Linked DNA regions of Homo sapiens: region 2 is linked to region 1. Evidence: fine-mapped expression QTL. A gene starts in region 1. The other region holds a variant in brackets. All regions are shown on one strand. Distances are between the middles of the regions.

Evidence for each region.
Region 2: its variant is fine-mapped to the expression of EMC3 in whole blood (TOPMed, PIP above 0.99).

The regions. Positions count from the first base shown.
Region 1 is chr3:9,983,278-9,991,277 of GRCh38, forward strand. It overlaps EMC3 (ER membrane protein complex subunit 3), which reads right to left and starts at 3,564. Exons shown (of 8, transcript NM_001394674.1): 1 at 3,230-3,564. The coding sequence starts at 3,384. EMC3-AS1 (EMC3 antisense RNA 1) reads left to right here and starts at 3,616. Exons shown (of 3, transcript NR_103821.1): 1 at 3,616-3,987; 2 at 5,435-5,470. RefSeq lists enhancers at 3,382-4,029, 3,494-3,653, 3,914-4,133.
Region 2 is chr3:9,958,023-9,967,481 of GRCh38, forward strand. It overlaps EMC3 (ER membrane protein complex subunit 3), which reads right to left. Exons shown (of 8, transcript NM_001394674.1): 8 at 4,660-6,175. The coding sequence ends at 6,047. Among named protein-coding and RNA genes, the nearest start is that of PRRT3, 10 kb to the left of the region's middle. The variant T/C (reference allele first, on the strand shown) is at 5,798.

The DNA.
Region 1 (8,000 bases):
GCTGGGATTACAGGCACATGCCACCGTGTCTGGTTAATTTTTGTATTTTTAGCAGAGATGGGGTTTCACCATGTTGGCCAGGCTGGTCTTGAACCCCTGACTTTAAGAGATCTGCCCACCTCAGCCTCCCTAAGTGCTGGGATTACAAGCATGTGCTACTGTGTCCGGCTGTTACATTCCTTCTTAAGGAAGCGTTCTTGGCTGGGTGCAATGGCTCACACCCTGTCTCTACTAAAATACAAAAATTAGCCAGGCATGCTGGCGCATGCCGCTAATCGCAGCCACTCGAGAGGTTGAGGCAGGAGAATCACTTCAGCTGGGGAGGCAGAGGTTGCAGTGAGCCAAGATTGCGCCACTGCACTCCAGCCTGGGCAAGAGTGAGACTCTGGTCTCCAAAAAAAAAAAGGTTCTTGTAAACAGACTACACTAACTGTGAATTTCATTTTGTGGTTACAAAAGAGAGCTTTGGATCTGATATAATTCAGAACCATTGCTCTAATAGTGAACCATGGGCAGAAAATCATGGCAGAGAATCTACGACAGCAGGAATCATGGTTGAAGAGGGTTTAACCTGGGAGTGAGACTGATCTGAGTTCAAGTACAGGCACAATATTTCCCTACTTTGGGAAGACTACTTAACTTTTCCAGGCTCCCTGGAATTGTAAAAATGGGTTAAGGAGTATCTGCTTCAGTGCTAATGTAAGGCTAAAATAAGAAATTTTACAGGTGCCAGAAAATGCTAAATGTCTGAGCTTTCCCCACTTCGCACTTTTCTACAGCCCTTCTTTCTGTGGTAAATACACTTTTTTTTTTTTTTTTAAATGAGATGGAGTCTCGCTCTGTCGCCAGGCTGGAGTGCAGTGGCATGATCTCGGCTCACCGCAACCTCTGCCTCCCGGATTCAAGCGATTCTCCTGCCTCAGCCTCCCGAGTAGCTGGGACTACAGGCACGTGCCATCACGCCCAGCTAATTTTTGTATTTTTAGTAGAGATGGGGTTTCACCATGTTGGCCAGGATGGTCTCAATCTCTTGACCTCATGATCTGCCTGCCTCGGCCTCTCAAAGTGTTGGGATTACAGGCGTAAGCCACCACACCCGGCCAGTAAGTTGACTTCTTTTCTGTTTTTTTGAGACAGAGTCTTGCTCTGTCACCCAGGTTGAAGTGCAGTGGCGCGATCTTGGCTCACTGCAAGCTCCGCCTCCTGGGTTCAAGCAATTCCACTGCCTCAGCCTCCCGAGTAGCTGGGACTACAGGCGCCCAGCATACCACGCTCAGCTAATTTTTTGTATTTTTAGTAGAGACGGGGTTTCACCATGTTAGCCAGGATGGTCTCGATCTCCTGACCTCGTGATCCGTCCGCCTCGGCCTCCCAAAGTGCTGGGAGTACAGGCATGAGCCACCATGCCCGGCCAGTAAGCTGACTTCTTAAGGTTCGCTCCAGGGTGGGGTGCTGGCTCTGGTCAGTTCTGAAACTAATGCTACAGAAAGATAAAGTGATCGCTGTAGTATAGTGGAAAAAGCCCAATACCCAGAAGGCTTGGTGTGAAGTCCTAAATGTCACCCTGTGTGACGCTGTAACGCACCTGGCACTCTTCTCAACGAACGGGTGGGATGGAACTTGTTAAAGCCTCTGTTTCTATAAAATGAGACAATATGTACCTCATAGAGTTGCTTTGAAGTTTTAAATAAGTTAATGAATGTAAGTACTTCACATAGTACCTGATATAGAGTAAATGGTTATTATTCTTCTTGGCATAATTGGGAAGAACTAACTGAAAATGTTACAGTAGTGCTTCCTAAACTTCAGTCACTCTCATGCCATGTTAGAATTTTTGTCCAACGCTTGTATCATTACATATTTAATACTTTTTATATATCAACTTTTTTCCCATCTATATGATTTTAAAGGAATCTTTAAATTACCAGCAAATGGAAATCCAGTATTGTCACAAAAAAGAAAGTAACTTAAGTACAGTAGAAACAAAACAACATTATTAAATTTTAACTAGACACTGTTACCTGTGAAAAGTTCTTAGCCTGAGGCTTACTCTCTTTATTAAAACGAGAAATTAATGTGAGAGAGAGGTGCTAAAGATATAGTAGCACTTACCTGAGATGATTTCTGAAAGTAATCAGAACTGACTGAAAATTGCTTGTTTTTCTAAGAGACAAGGTCTCGTTATGTTGCCCAGGCTGGTCTCCCACAATCCTCCTGCCTCAGCATCCCAAGTTGCTGGGAGAAAACTATTACTTTAATATGAGGGGCTACATGTCTAGATAACCACCTATAATCATCTCAAATTCCTTTATCTGTATATAAATATTGCAACGAGGGGCTGGTTGCCATGGCTCACACCTGTAATCCCAGCACTTTGGGAGGCCAAGGCAGGTGGATCACCTGAGGTCGAGTTCGAGAACAGCCTGGCCAAGATGGTGAAACCCTGTCTCTACTAAAAATACAAAAATTAGTCAGGTGTGGTGGTGCGGGCCTGTAATCCCAGCTACTCGGGGGGCTGAGGCAAGAGAATCGCTTGAACCCGGGAGGCGTAGACTGCAGTGAGCTGAGATGACGCCACCGCACTCCAGCCTGGGCAACGAGAGCGAAACTCCGTCTCAAAAATAAGCAAATAAATAGATAAATAAATAAATACTGCAATGAAATATGTGAGGAAGTTGCCTCCACTCTAGTGGGGGGAAATAATTACAATTCCTTACATCTCTAATGGCAGTTTTACAGACTGCAAAGCGCTTTGGTACTTGGCATCTCAGCTGACAGTCCCACCAGGCCCGACGCCTGGAACAGTAATTTGGTAGAATGCAGATTATCACACTCACTTGACTGGATGTTACAAAGACTAAACGCTGTAACGCACCTGGCACTCTTCTCAACGGAAGGGTGGGATGGAATAGTTCATAGGTAAACCCACCGAGGGTCGGCGACTAACCTAAAGGATTAACAGTACTGTTTTTTTCAACACTCAATACGTCCTAGATCCTGTGCTAAGGGACTTACAGACATCACCTAATTTGATTCCTACCTGTCTATGAAGCAGGTACTGTTATCATCCCCATTTCACAGAGGACAAAAGTGAAACACAGAGGTAACGGGTAAGGTCACCCTGTCAGAGGGGGCGCGACGTGAACCTAGGCAAATTGACACAACTCCTGCACTTTTTTGCCCAAGGTCACGGCGGTGTGAGGTAGGCTGGAGAAGGGAGGGCGCTGACCTGTCAGATACTTGTTCCTGGGTGAGCTTCTTGTCGCTCTGCAGCAGGATGGACACGTAGTGGCGGATCATGCCTACGAAGAAAGTGATGATAACGATGGGTAGGACCACCCAGAGGCGGATGTTGGAGTCGAGCAACAGTTCTGGCCCTGCCATCTTCACTGAAAGCTGGTTCCCAGTCTGGAATGGGCGAGCTTCTCTTCTCCGGGGCACAGTTGCTTCTCTTCGGCTTCGCCTCCGGGCCTTCTCAAGCCCCTTTGCCCGTGTACCCCAGAACTCTCCTGCGACTGTGAGCCGAGCTTACTGCCTTCAGCTGGGCTGCCTGGTCTTCCACTTCCGGCGCGAACGTTGACGTCACGTCGTGGCGCACCTCAGTGGCGTCAGAGCGGCGTCGGGCCTGGCGGGAAAGTGGAAAACTATCGGCGGTGGCCCAGGCTCGGTGGCTCACTCCTGGAATCCCAGCACTTTGGGAGGCCAAGGTGGGGGGATCACGAGGTCAGGGGATCGAGACCATCCTGGCTAACAGGTGAAACCCTGTCTCTACTAAAAATACAAAAAAATTAGCCAGGCGTGGTGGAGGCGCCTGTAGTCGCAGCTACTCGGGAGGCTGAGGCAGGAGAATGGCGTGAACCCAGGAGGCGGAGCCTGCAGTGAGCCGAGATTGCTGCACTGCACTCCAGCCTGGGCGACAGAGGAAGACTCCGTCTCAAAAAAAAAAAAAAAAAAAGAAAGAAAACTACAGGCGGGGACGGCTTCTCGGTGAGTAAATGGAGCAGTGGTCGTAGTCTCTCGAGGCCCCGCTCCCCTGCGACCTAATCTCTTAAGTCCGGGCCGCGGTCGGCGTTCTTCTCTGGGGCTCCGCGCCCCAAGCCTCGGCTTCCTCATCTGCCCTGAGATGGGATAGTCCCCACAGGTACCTTTCTGCGTCGTTAAAATGAGGAAATGAGAAAGGCTTTTACCCTCACCCCCTTCCCGATGAACTAGTCCAGGCAGTCGGCCTCATCTCACGTCTGTTGGGCTTCTCGGGAAGCCAAATGGTATCGCACGTGTTAAAGGCGGGTGTCTGGAAGCCGAAAGTCCTGACTAACTGAGAATGTTGACTAATCCGGATAGCATTGAGAAGAGGAAATGGAGCTATTCAACAGATTCATTGATCTATATAAGCTGCTATAAGTTACATTTACTCTTTCTGTGTAGTACCTCACAGAATTCTGAAATTTTGGATATGACATTCTACGACATTGCATTTAGCTATTCTCACAACTCTATTTTTCAAAATGTCCAACGTTTAAAATTTTTTCTTCCTCAGTCTTTCAGGAGATTGTCATGGTTGAGAGACTGGACTGTACCTACCCACTATGAATGAGCAGAACACCATAGCTAATATTAACTTTCTGCAGGTAATCTCTGAGCTTCGGGAGAAGTTGGATCCTGCAGCATTGTGTTTTGCCATCACTGTTGCAGGCTTTCCAAGTAAAGTTAAAAAGTAAAGGACAAGCAAGGTAAAGAGCTCATGGATAATTGCCACCCTTTTCCTCACATAGGATGTCACAGTTCTCTGACATCCCACAGTCAGAGTTGGAGCTTAATACTTACAACTACAAATAATGGTACTATTATGATATTTACATCTAGTATTATATCGTTTTTCAAATTACGTATATGTATGTGGCTATGTATGTGTTCATATGTTTTCTTAGCCATTCAGATCAATCCCAGGCAGACTACAGTGCAAGTTTATTAGCCATCTTATACATGAGGTTGTCATTTACTCCAGGGTACATGGCTACTAAGCAGGAATTCACATCTTGTAAGTTCTTTTCTGGTAGGTAGAAGAGTAATTTTTTTCCTCTCTGCTACTTGTAATTCCTCAGGAAATCAAGAAAGCAGCGGTCAGAACCGTATTATTCTCTTTGATGTAATAAAGTCAGCTATTAGATATGAGAAAACCATTTCAGAAGCCTGGATTAAGGTGGGATCTTTGGAACTTTGATTATCAAGGAGGAAATGAGTGGCAATTAGTGACAGATGTATAACTGAGGTAGATTGAAATAAAAATCTCAAAACTCATTCAAGTGGAAATGATAGCTGATGGTTGCCATATGGACACATTGGCTCTTAGATGAGATAACAGGGCATGCTGAATAAGGTGTAACGTGTTTCGCTGATGTGTCATAATATTTTTGTGACTCTCCTGTTTTTTCAGGCAATTGAAAACACTGCCTCAGTATCTGAACACAAGGTAATGTTCATGTACTATGCATTTTCAGTATTGCAGACTTAAAAGTAATGACATTGGCTAGCTTGCCTTCCCACTGTCTTTCTTTCTCCTCCCTCCAGTCACTCTTCTCTCTCTTCCCTAGTTGCTCTAATAAACATTAGCTGTCTGGGGAAGATAATCTGAGGTGGCGACTGGCCAGATAGCCTGCCCCTACTCACTCTGGCTATAAAATAAGCCTACAGTATCCACAAGGGGAAATACTAACAGTGTAAACAAGCACATCAAGGTGCAGTCAAAGAAGCCAGGTCCCCACTGATGAGATGAAGAAAATAACCACCTAAGTCTCAGGTCCCTATATCTGCCTAATTGCCCTTCCTTCCACCCAGCACCACTGTCAAGATAATGGCATTCCATGTTTTACTTTACTTTGCTCATGTAGACCTGACTAGAGTAAATCAGTCTGTCCACTGTCAAAGCAGTGGTACTGGATCTTATGTCTCTATTAATTCTAGAAATACCTTCCATCAAAAAGCCAGATGATTGGCCGGGCACGGTGGCTCACGCCTATAATCCCAGCACTTTGGGAGGCTGAGGCAGGCGGATCATCTGAGGTCAGGAGTTTGAGACCAGCCTGGCCAATGTAGCGAAACCCCGTCTCTACTAAAAATACAAAAAAAAAATTAGCCTGGCCTGGTGGCACACGCCACTGCACTCCAGCCTGGGCGACAGTGCAAGACTCCATCTCAAAAGATAAAAAGCCAGATGATTGAGTTCCTTAGGTGCTGATTGGTTGCCTTTAAAGATTTTTCTTTGGTTGGAATCTGTTTTGTGGGATTTTTGTTAGTTTTGTTATCCAATTTTGGGATGACTATCTTAAAAGCTTTCATGATGATGAATAAAGCAATGAAAAAAATGAATAACTTTTTGTGGTGAGAAATATCAAAGTACTCCAAACACACTGTTTTTGGTTTTAGATAAACACAAATTTAACACCTTGACTGCCTGCATACCTATTTTTACGTATTTGTAATCATTTTATAAATATAAATATAATTTGTATTCTTTTTTCTCAACATTTTCTTCTCCATGTGCTTCTGCTTTGTCTTCATTGTTATCTTTAATGACTGTATTCTGGTCTAATGACTCTAAATTTTGGTGTCCTAAGAAGTGGAGCATTCAGTTAAGAGAAGTAGTAAAATTTGTTTTTTCTTTTTTGTCCTGCTTGCCTTTTTAACTTTTTTTTTTTTTTTTTCCTGGAAGCATAGACTCAGATTGCCCTGAATACACTCCCAGTGTTTTCTCTTTTTTTTTTGAGACAGAGTCTTGCTCTGTCACCCAGGCTGGAGTGCAGGCAGTGGCGCAATCTCAGCTCACTGCAAGCTCCACCTCCTGGGTTCATGCCATTCTTCTACCTCAGCCTCCCGAGTAGCTGGGACTACAGGCGCCTGCCACCACGCCCGGCTAATTTTTTGTATTTTTAGTAGAGATGGGGTTTCACGTTGTTAGCCAGGATGGTCTGGATCTCCTGACCTTATGATCCACCTCAGCCTCCCAAAGTCCTGGGATTACAGGTGTGAGCCACCGTGCCGGGCCTTTCTCTTTTTTTTTTTTTTTTTTTTTTTTTAAGAGACTAAGTCTTGCTCTGTCACCGAAGGTGGAGTGCGGTGACAGCATCATAGTTCATTGCAGTCTCAAACACCCGGGTTCAAGCGATCCCCCCACCTCAGTCTTTGGAGTAGCTGGGACTACAGGCAAGCACCACCAGGCCTGGCTAATTCTGTTAGTTAGTTAGTTAGTTATTTTGAGAGAGTTTCGCTCTTTTGCCTAGGCTATAGTGAAGTGCCACAATCTCGGTTCACTGCAACCTCTGGCCCCTGGGTTGAAGCAAATCTCCTGCCTCAGCCTCCCTAGTAGCTGGGATTATAGGTGCCTGCCACCATGCCTGGCTAATTTTTGTATTTTTAGCAGAGATGGGATTTCACCATATTGGCCAGGCTAGTCTCAAACTCCTGACTCAGGTGATCCACCCACCTGCCTCAGCCTCCCAAAGTGCTAGGATTACAGGTGTGAGCCACCACGCCTGGCCAATTCTTTTATTTATTTATTTATTTATTTATTTTTTGAGACGGAGTCTCGCTGTCGCCCAGGCTGTAGTGCAGTGGCACGATCTCGGCTCACTGCAAGCTCCGCCTCCCGGGTTCACGCCATTCTCCTGCCTCGGCCTCCTGAGTAGTTGGGACTATAGGCGCCCACCACCTCGCCTGGCTAATTTTTTGTATTTTTAGTAGAGACGGGGTTTCACCATGTTAGCCAGGATGGTCTCGATCTCCTGACCTCGTGATCTGCCCGCCTTGGCCTCCCAAAGTGCTGGGATTACAGGTGTGAGCCACCGCGCCCGGCCATTCTTTTATTTTTTATAGAGATGAGGTCTTGCTGTGTTTCCCAGGCTGGTCTCAAATTTTTAGCTTCAAGTGATCCTCCTGCTTGGGCCTCCCAAAGTGCTGGGATTATAGGCATGAGCCACTGCACCCAGCCCTCATATTTTTCTTTT
Region 2 (9,459 bases), 25 kb before region 1:
ATTTATTTATCGTTTTGAGACAGGGTCTCGCTCTGTCTTCCAGGCTGGAGTGCAGTGGTGCAATGATGGCTCACTGCAGCCTTGACCTCCTGGGCTCAAGCAATCCTTCCACCTCATCCTCCTCGGTAGCTGGGACTACAGGCATGTGCCACCATGCCTGGCTGATTTTTTTTTTCATTTTCTTGTGAGGCCTCACTATGTTGCCTAAACTGGTCTCCAACTCCCAGGCTCAAGTGATCCTCCCGCCTCACCCTCCCAAAGTACTTGGAATGCAGGCATGAGACATTGTGCCTAACCTATTTTACTGTTTTAGAGACAGGGTCTCAATCTGTTGCCCAGGCTGGAGTGCAGTGGCACAGTCATGGCTCACTGTAATCTTCAACTTCTGGGCTCAAGCAACCACCCACCTGCCTCAGGCTCCTGAGTAGCTGGGACTACAGGCATACGCCACCATGCCCAGATAACTTTATTTTTTGTAGAGACAGGGTCTTGCTATGTTGCCGGGCCAGTCTTGAACTCCTGGCCTCAAGCAATCCTCCCACCTCAGCCTCCTAAAGTGCAAGGATTACGGGCGTGAGCCACTGCACCTGGTCAGTACTTTATTCTTTTTACTGCTGAATAATACGCCATTGTATGGCTATACCATATTTCATTTATCCATCTGTTAGCTGATAGACATTTGGGTTGTTTCCCACCTTGTGGCTACTATGAATATTCATGTATACATAATTGTGTAGACATGTTTTCTTTTTCTTCTTTCTTTTTTTTTTTTTTTTTTTGAGACAGAGTCTCGCTTTGTGGCCCAGTCGGTAGCCCAGGCTGGAGTGCAGTAGTGCGATCTCAGCTCACTGCAACCTCTGGCTCTCATGTTCAAGCAATTCTCCTGCCTCAGCCTCCTGAGTAGCTGGGACTACAGGAGGCTCGATCCACCTGCCTTGGTCTCCTAAAGTGCTGGAATTACAGGCATGAGCCAACGCACCTGATCTGGACATATGTTTTCTTTTCTTTTTTTTTTGAGATGGAGTCTCACCCTGTTGCCTAGACTGGAGTGCAATGGCATGATCCTGGCTCACTGCAACCTCCACCTCCCAGGTTCAAGCGATTCTCCTGCCTCAGCCTCCCGAGTAGCTGGGATTACAGTGGCGCGCCATCACGCCCAGCTAATTTTTGTATTTTTAGTAGAGACGGGGTTTCACCATGTTGGTCAGGCTGGTCTCGAACTCCTGACCTCGTGATCCGCCTGCCTCGGCCTCCCAAAGTGCTGGGATTACCGGCATGAGCCATTATGCCCGGCCAGTATGTTTTCACTTCTCTTGGGTATATATCTATTTAGGAGTGGAACTGCTGAGTCATATGGAAATTTTACATTAAAACTTTTGAGGACCTGCCAGACTTTTCCAAAGTAGCCTTGTGACTGGTGGGGAGACTGAGGCCCAAAGAGGGAAACTGTCTTCTGCAAAGCAACACAGTGAGTGTGAGAAAGCAGGAGCTAATCATGGACATGACTTCAATGCTGCGCCTTCTCCTCTGACCGCATTACCATCTCACTCTCACTCCAGTGCTCTCCATACCCACTTCTGCCCCTCCATTCCATTCCTTGCCCAGCAGCAAATCCCTTCACACCAGTCCCTACAAAGGCTTCCTGCTGCCATCATCAGGATGAAGTTCCGCCTCTGAGGGATGACTTATAAGCTCCTCTGCCATCTGGCCCTAGTGCTGCCTCCTCATCTTGTCTTCTGAAGCAGTTTTAGTGAGCTATAATTCGCACCCCACCCCATTCACCCGTTTTAAGTGTACAATCCAAATGTTTATCAGTCCTTTCATACTCTACACTGCAGGGTCATGCAGGTCTTGTTTCAGTTCCATGAAAACACCAACATCTTTGCTTCTGAGACTTTGTGCACACCGTTACCTCTGTTTAGAACAGTCTGTATATTTTTTTCTGGCAAGTTCCTCATGATCTTTCACATCTTAGTTGAGATGTTTCTGCTGGGAAGCCTTCCCTGAGCATTCGGGTTGACTGGATGACCTGCAGGATGTTCCCATGGCCTCCCTAGGATCGTCCCTGTCACAGCATGTACTATAGTAGTCTGAGGTTTTTTGGTTTTTGTTTTTTTTTTGAGATGGAGTCTCACTCTATCGCCCGGGCTGGAGTGCAGTGGCGCAATCTCGGCTCACTGCAAGCTCCACCTCCTGGGTTCACGCCATTCTCCTGCCTCAGCCTCCAAAGTAGCTGGGCCTACAGGCACCCGCCACCATGCCCGGCTAATTTTTTTGTATTTTTTAGTGGAGAGAGGGTTTCACCGTGTTAGCCAGGTTGGTCTAGCAGTCTGAGTTTTTAAGGTCTGTGACTGTGTCTTGTTCATATGCAGTGCCTGGCAACACTCAATTCACTATTGGTTGAATGAACAGAAAGATCTGAAAATATCTAGCATGGCCCTGAGCACACTGTAGAAATCCTGCAAATGTTTGCAGACCGCAATTACTTCCAAGGACAGGGACAGCACCTCCTGTTGGGAACATTCCAGATGGTTTGGATGATTAAAGGTAAGATAAGATATTTTTTGTCTGGTACCCATGCCACTTCTTCAGGCAACAGCATCCCAGTTTTCCTTTGGGGAATCACTCTTATTATACCTTCAGTTCTTATAGTTTATGAGAAGCTAAGCAGTTCCTGGAATTTGCAGTTGACTTAAGGCAGATGAGTTAAGATGCAACCCTAACTTTTCCTAGATTTTTTAAAAAGGGGTGCTTTCTTTTCACTAGGATTACTAATCTCGTGCCTCTATAAGAAAACTAACTGTCTAAGAAGCAGACTTGAGAAAGCAACTGAGTCCTGATGATATCATGAGAGGCCCTGGACCCAGCTGTGCCTGAAGCCAACCACCAGACATTTTAGTTATTGAGTCAATTTCCATTCCTTTTTAATTGCTTGAGTTCAGCTTGTCACCTGCAACTGCAATATTCCTAATCCAGTTAGTAACCCTCTTTCACATACACACATACCCATCACACACCTTACAGACCAAACAGAGGAATCGAGCTGACTTTTGTCCCTAAGCACGGGTTTACCTACTCACCTCAAATCTAAATTGTATTTTTCTGAGTTGTGTTGTGCAGTTGACTGTCAATATTTAGCTTTCCTTGTACGGTACTTTCTATACCAAGCTTGTCTGGCCTGTAGGCTGCATGCCGCCCAGGACAGCTTGGTATGGGGCCCAACACAAATTCATAAACTTTCTTAAAACATTGTTTTTTGTTTGTTTTGTAGCTTATCAGCTATCGTCAGTGTTAGTGTATTTTATGTGTGGCCCAAGACAATTCTTATTCCAGTGTGGCCCAGGGAGGCCAAAGGATTGGACACCCCTGTTCTATTCCATGATCAGCAAGTAGACATTTGCGGTGTCCTAAGTAGTATCAGGTGATAAGTCAAGGTGGATGGAAGAGATGCAATTCTCATTTATAGCCTGGCCCAAATTGAACTCCAAGAAACACACACAATAAGCACTGCTCCCTAAGCCTGTGCGCTGTTCTGGAAAGAGCCTACTAAAACAACCTTGGCTTTTCTTTTTGACTCGCTGATGCCAAGGACAGGTCTGTGCATTTACTACCAGTACAATGGGACAGGAAAGTCTCACACACATTTTTTTATTCTTTGAGATGGAGTTTCACTCTTGTTGCCCAGGCTGGAGTGCAGTGGCACGATCTCGGCTCACTGCAACCTCTGCCTCCCAGGTTCAAGTGGTTCTCCTGCCTCAGCCTCCCGAGTAACTGGGATTACAGGTGCACACCACCATGCCTGGCTAATTTTTGTATATTTAGTAGAGACGGGGTCTCACCATGTTGGCCAGGCTGGTCACACACATTTTAACCACCCATCTTTGCTACAAGGGAAAAAGGCCAAACCTTGTGTGGGTGAAGAGGCAGACTCAAATGCTCCCGATGCAGAGGAACGAGGCGGCTACCACTCAATCACCAATTACCATTTGCATGCTACCCAACCTGGACCTTTCCAGGGCATACTGGACCACTCCCCACTTCCTTGGGGTGCAATGAATTGCAGACAGTTTAATCCATGGGCTTTTGCTGATTCTGTTTTCTCTGCTTGGAATGCCCTTCTACACAGAGGAAGTCTTTCAAGACCCAGGTCAAAGGTTAGCTCTCCTGTGAACACTTGTTCCTTTTCTATCTGGTATAAGCAGCCATTTTAACTATCGTTAAAGGTCAGGGTTTCTTAACTTGGGTCTGCGGGTCATTATGAATAAGTTTTAGAGGGACATGTCTGTATCTATGTCCACATATGTTACTCTGGAGGCCAGGGTCAGAGATTCCAGATTCTCAGATTCGGTGACCTCAAAAAAAGGTCTCTTTTGGCCAGGCACAGTGGCTCATGCCTGTAATCCCAGCACTTTGGGAGGGTGAGGCAGGAGGATGGCTTGAGCTCACAAGTTCAAGACCAGTCTGGGCAACATAGCAAGGTATCGTCTCTAAAAAAATAATAAAAAATTTTAAAAAGCTCTTAGGTGTCTCTCTCTTGTGAGTTGAGGGCAAGGTTCACATCTCTTTCGTCTTAGACTCCCCGCACTGATCCAAGATAGACAGTCAACTGCTGGCAGAAGGTTGTTAGTGACTTACAGAGGCAACACTTTCACAGGCAAAGAAGAGAAAACAGGACGGTTTAATTTGTGGAGTCGAGTCGTTTGTTCTTAATTACTGCACTCAACATGCAAATTATATTCACCTCTTGGTACAGAAATGGCACCGTCACTTCCCTGGGACCTTTAATCCAGACAGAATTATTCTTGGGCACCCTTATCTGTGTGTCTACCAACAACTGCCGTCTCTCCCTTCTTACAGCAATATGTAAATTCTCTTTTGTTCCAAGCAACTGGGAAATGAGGTCCTTCATCCAAAGGAGTAGCCATTTCCAGTATAGCACCACTGATTTGTCAATGGATTTGATAAGATTTGATACACTGACATCCAGATCAAGATTTTGCATTATTTATAGACAGTCTCTGATGATCCCAAAGGCACTTTAGAATCTGGCAGTGCCTCAGGGTCACTGATTTTCACTGGGCAGAATTAAGTGATATAGAAGGTTTGCTGAGTCTGTCCTGACCCTGGGTATTCACTCTGAAGAGAGTTTATTTGAATAAGGTTTTGACATATTTGGTCTCTATGTCTATGTAGGCTCAAAATGAACAGGGAGATTCATTTTGTTCATCCATAGTTTCTAAACCTTTGGTAGTGGAAATGGTTTACTTGTGTAAAGAAAGTTAACAATACTAACAAAACTAATGGTAAAACACAGGGTGTTTGGATCCCAAGAAAACAGGAGTTTACTGTGGCTAGATGTCAGGCTGACTGCACATAATCATTAGCTATAATTAACAATGCTTCCTTCGAAGACTGGGCTTCTGCTAAGATAGATATATATATATATATATATATATTTTTTTTTTTTTTTCAGATGGAGTTTTGCTCTGTCGCCCAGGCTGGAGCGCAGTGGCACGATGTCAGCTCACTGCATCCTCCGCCTCCTAGGTTTAAGCAGTTCTCTGCCTCAGCCTCCCAAGTAGCTGGGATTACAGGTGCCCACCACCACGCCCGGCTAATTTTTTTTTGTATTTTTAGTAGAGATGGGGTTTCACCATCTTGGCCAGGCTGATCTTGAACTCCTGATCTCGTGACCCACCCGCCTCAGCCTCCCAAAATCCTGGGATTACAGGCGTGAGCCACTGCGCCTGGCCAAGATTTTATATATTATCAGTAGCCTGAGGTTTCCCCCTTTCTC[T/C]GACTTTCATTACTAGAGTCACCAGAAGGAACATTTACAACATTTTAAAAATAACAAGTTGCCCAGCATACTCCTATTTCCTCTAGTTTCAAACATAAAGGGGAACCCAGCCCAGACAAGAACAAGCCTTGCTGCATGCCTGCCAGCTCGTGCATCCTCCTTTTTATTTCAAGAGGTGCCAGCTCCAAACAAAGTTACAAGGTTAAGTGCAACTCCAAGTTCCTGACACAGCTAATCCCTGCTCGGTCTTCAAAAAATAGAGGTCTGTAATTCCTTTTTGAACATGCCTTCGAAGTGGAGGTCTTTGGCCATGAGCTCTTCTTCGACATCATCTAGTGCCCACTGGTGATCCGTCAGCTCCAAAGCTTCCCACTCTGTCTGTAATGGAAGAGAACACCCAGGCAGGAAGAGAGGGAATTGTTACTGACAGCTGTGGCTAACCTTTAGTGACCACTTACTCTGGGCCAAAAGCTGGAGTGAGCTATCTGCATGTATAAGCTCATTCAATCCTACAAGGGAAATGCTGCTACCCCAATCCTCTCCTCCCCCTCTTCCTGCCACCCCTCAATTTATAGATAAGGAGACTAAGACTAAGAGGTCAAATAATTTGTTCAAGGCCACTGGCACTAGGAACTAATGGAGCTGAGATTTAAATTGTGGTCTGACTGCAAAGTCCCCAGCGCTTAACCCGTCTATCAGCTCACACTCACTAAGCACCTTTGTGCCCCACAGTACTCTTGAGAGATGTACAACAGACAAATTAGTGCAGATTCTCAGCTCTTTAATCAAGGGACTTGCCATCTGGTTTAAATGGTGCATGGTCCACAATGCTTTGACATAAATGGCCCAGGGTATCTTCAGTGGGCCTAAGAACACTTCCTCCAACCTTATGTCCAGACACACAATGGCACTTCATTACAGTTTGTGGGAGTCCAGTAATTTTTAATCACTGGAATAAAGACTTTGATGATGTGAACTAAAAAACTGTTTTTGGCATATAATCATTTAGATGTAAACTAGTAATATGTTGAGCAGAAATAAATTTGCAGAATTTTCCAAGAAATTACATTTCTCAAATATTCTATTAATCTGACTACTTTGCCTTAAATTAGTGAGTGTCTAAAAAATGCTTTATGAGTTGGGTGCAGTGGCATGCATCTACAGTCCCAGCTACTCTGGAGGCTGAGGCTAAGGATAGCTTGAGCCCAGGAGTTTGGGACTGCCCTGGACAACCTATCTTTAGATGAGCCTAGAGATAGTAATACCTCGTCTTTAAAAATAAATTAAAAAAAAAAAAAAAAAGCTTGCGAGATGTGGTAGCTCACACCTGTAATCCTAGCACTTTGGGAGGCCAAGGCAGGAGGATCACTTGAGGATGGGAGTTCAAGACCAGCCTGGGCAACACAGCGAGATCCCATCTCTATACAAATTTAAAAAAAAATTAGTTGGGTGTGGTGGTGTGTGCCTGTAGTACTGGCTTCTCGTGTACCAGTACTGAGGCTGAGGTGGGAGGAATGCTTAAGTCCAGGAGTTCGAGGCTGCAGTGAGCAAGGATTGTACCACTGCACTCCAGCCTGGGTGACACAGTGAGACCCTCGATAGATAGATAGATAGATAGATAGATAGATAGATAGATAGATAGAACAAGCTTATTTAATGTGAAATACAAATGTTAGCTCATGAGTGAGTTTTTCAGATATAATTTACATGTCATACAATTTACCCCTTTAATGTGTATAATTTAGTGATTTTTAGTATATTCATATGTGCAACCACCACCACTATCTAATTGCAGAACACTTTTATCATAACAAAAAGAAACCACATACCAAACAGTAGACAGCTCCCATTATTCACCTCCCACAACCTCTGGCAACTACTACGTTATCTTCCGTATCTTTTTTTCACTTATTCTGGGCATATGTGGCCTTTTGTTATTTTCTTTCACTTAGCATGTTTTCAAGGTTCTTCCCTGTTTAACATGATTCAGTATTCCACTCTTATTTATAGCTGAATAACACTCCATTGTATATATTCTACTGTACATACAATGTACATTATATTCCAAAATATTCCATTGTTTATTCATTCATTAGATGATGGACATTTGGGTTATGTCTACTTTTTGATTATTATGAATCATGCTCTGAACACATTCTCACATAAGTTTCTGTGTGGACATACATTTTCAGTTCTCTTGAGTATTTACTTAAGAGTGAAATTACTGGATCATATAGTAACTATGTTTTAACTGTTTGAGGAAAGGCAGAAAAACTGTTTTCCAAAGTGGCTGTACCATCATCAACAATAGGGTTCCAATTTCTCCACATCCTTACCGACACTTGTTATTGTTGATCTTTTTTTTTATTAATTATAACCATCTGAGTGGGCATGAAGTGGTATCTGTTTTTTTTTTTTTTTGAGATGGAGTCTCGCTCTGGCACCCAGGCTGGAGTGCAGTGGCGCAATCTCCGCTCACTGCAACCTCCGCCTCCCAGGTTTAGGCAATTCTCCTGCCTCAGCCTCCTGAGCAGCTGGGACTACAGGCGCCCGCCACCACGCCCGGCTAATTTTTGTATTTTTAGTAGAGATGGGGTTTCACCATGTTGACCAAGCTGATCTTGAACTTCTGACCTTGTGATCCACCCACCTCAGCCTCCCAAAGTGCTGGGATTACAGGCGTGAGCCACCATGCCCAGCCCTCTCACTGTTTTTTAGTTGTTTATTTTTTTGAGACAGAGTGATCTCACTCTGTCACCCAGGGTGGAGTGCAGTGGCGCCATCTTGGCTCACTGCAACCTCTGCATCTGCAATGGTGGATCTCGGCTCACTGCAACCTCTGCCTCCCAGGTTCAAGCAATTCTCATGCCTCAGCCTCCTGAGTAGCTGGGATTACAGGCAGGCACCACTATGCCCAGCTAATTTTTGTATTTTTAGTGGAGATGGCATTTCACCATGTTGGCCAGGCTGGTCTCAAGCTCCTGACCTCAAATGATCTGCCTGTCTCAGCCTCCCAAAGTGCTGGGATTAAGGTGTAAGCCACTGCGCCCAGCCAAATTTTTATTTTTTTATTGTGGTAAAATATATGTAACATAACATACACCACTTTTAACCATTTCAGATGTAAAATTCAGTGGCATTAATGACATTCACAATGTGTACCCATGTCTACTATCATTTCCAAAGTTTTATGTCCCCTTAAACAGAAAATGTGCACAGTAAGCAATTACTCCCCACTGCCCCCCATCCCATCCTCAGTAAACTCTAACCTACTTTCTTGTCTCTGTGAATTTTCCTATTCCAAATATTTTATATGAGTAATATCATGCAATATTAAAGATTTGGGACTTTGACCCATTTGATTTCTTTTTTCAAGACAGGGTCTCGCTCTGTCACCCAAGCTGGTGTGCAGTGGCACAATCACAGCTCATTGCAGCCTCAAACTCCTCAGCTCAAGTGGTCCTCCCATCTATAGGCATGCACCACCACATTTGGCTAATTTGAACCTAATTTTTTTTTTTCTTCTGCACTAACATGCCTGTTGAACCATTTGGACTTAACTTTTGTGCATGGTGTGAAATAGGTGCCCAGCCTCATTCTTTTGCATGTAGATATCCTTTTCCCAGCACCATTCGTTGAATGGAGACTATTCTTTCCCCACT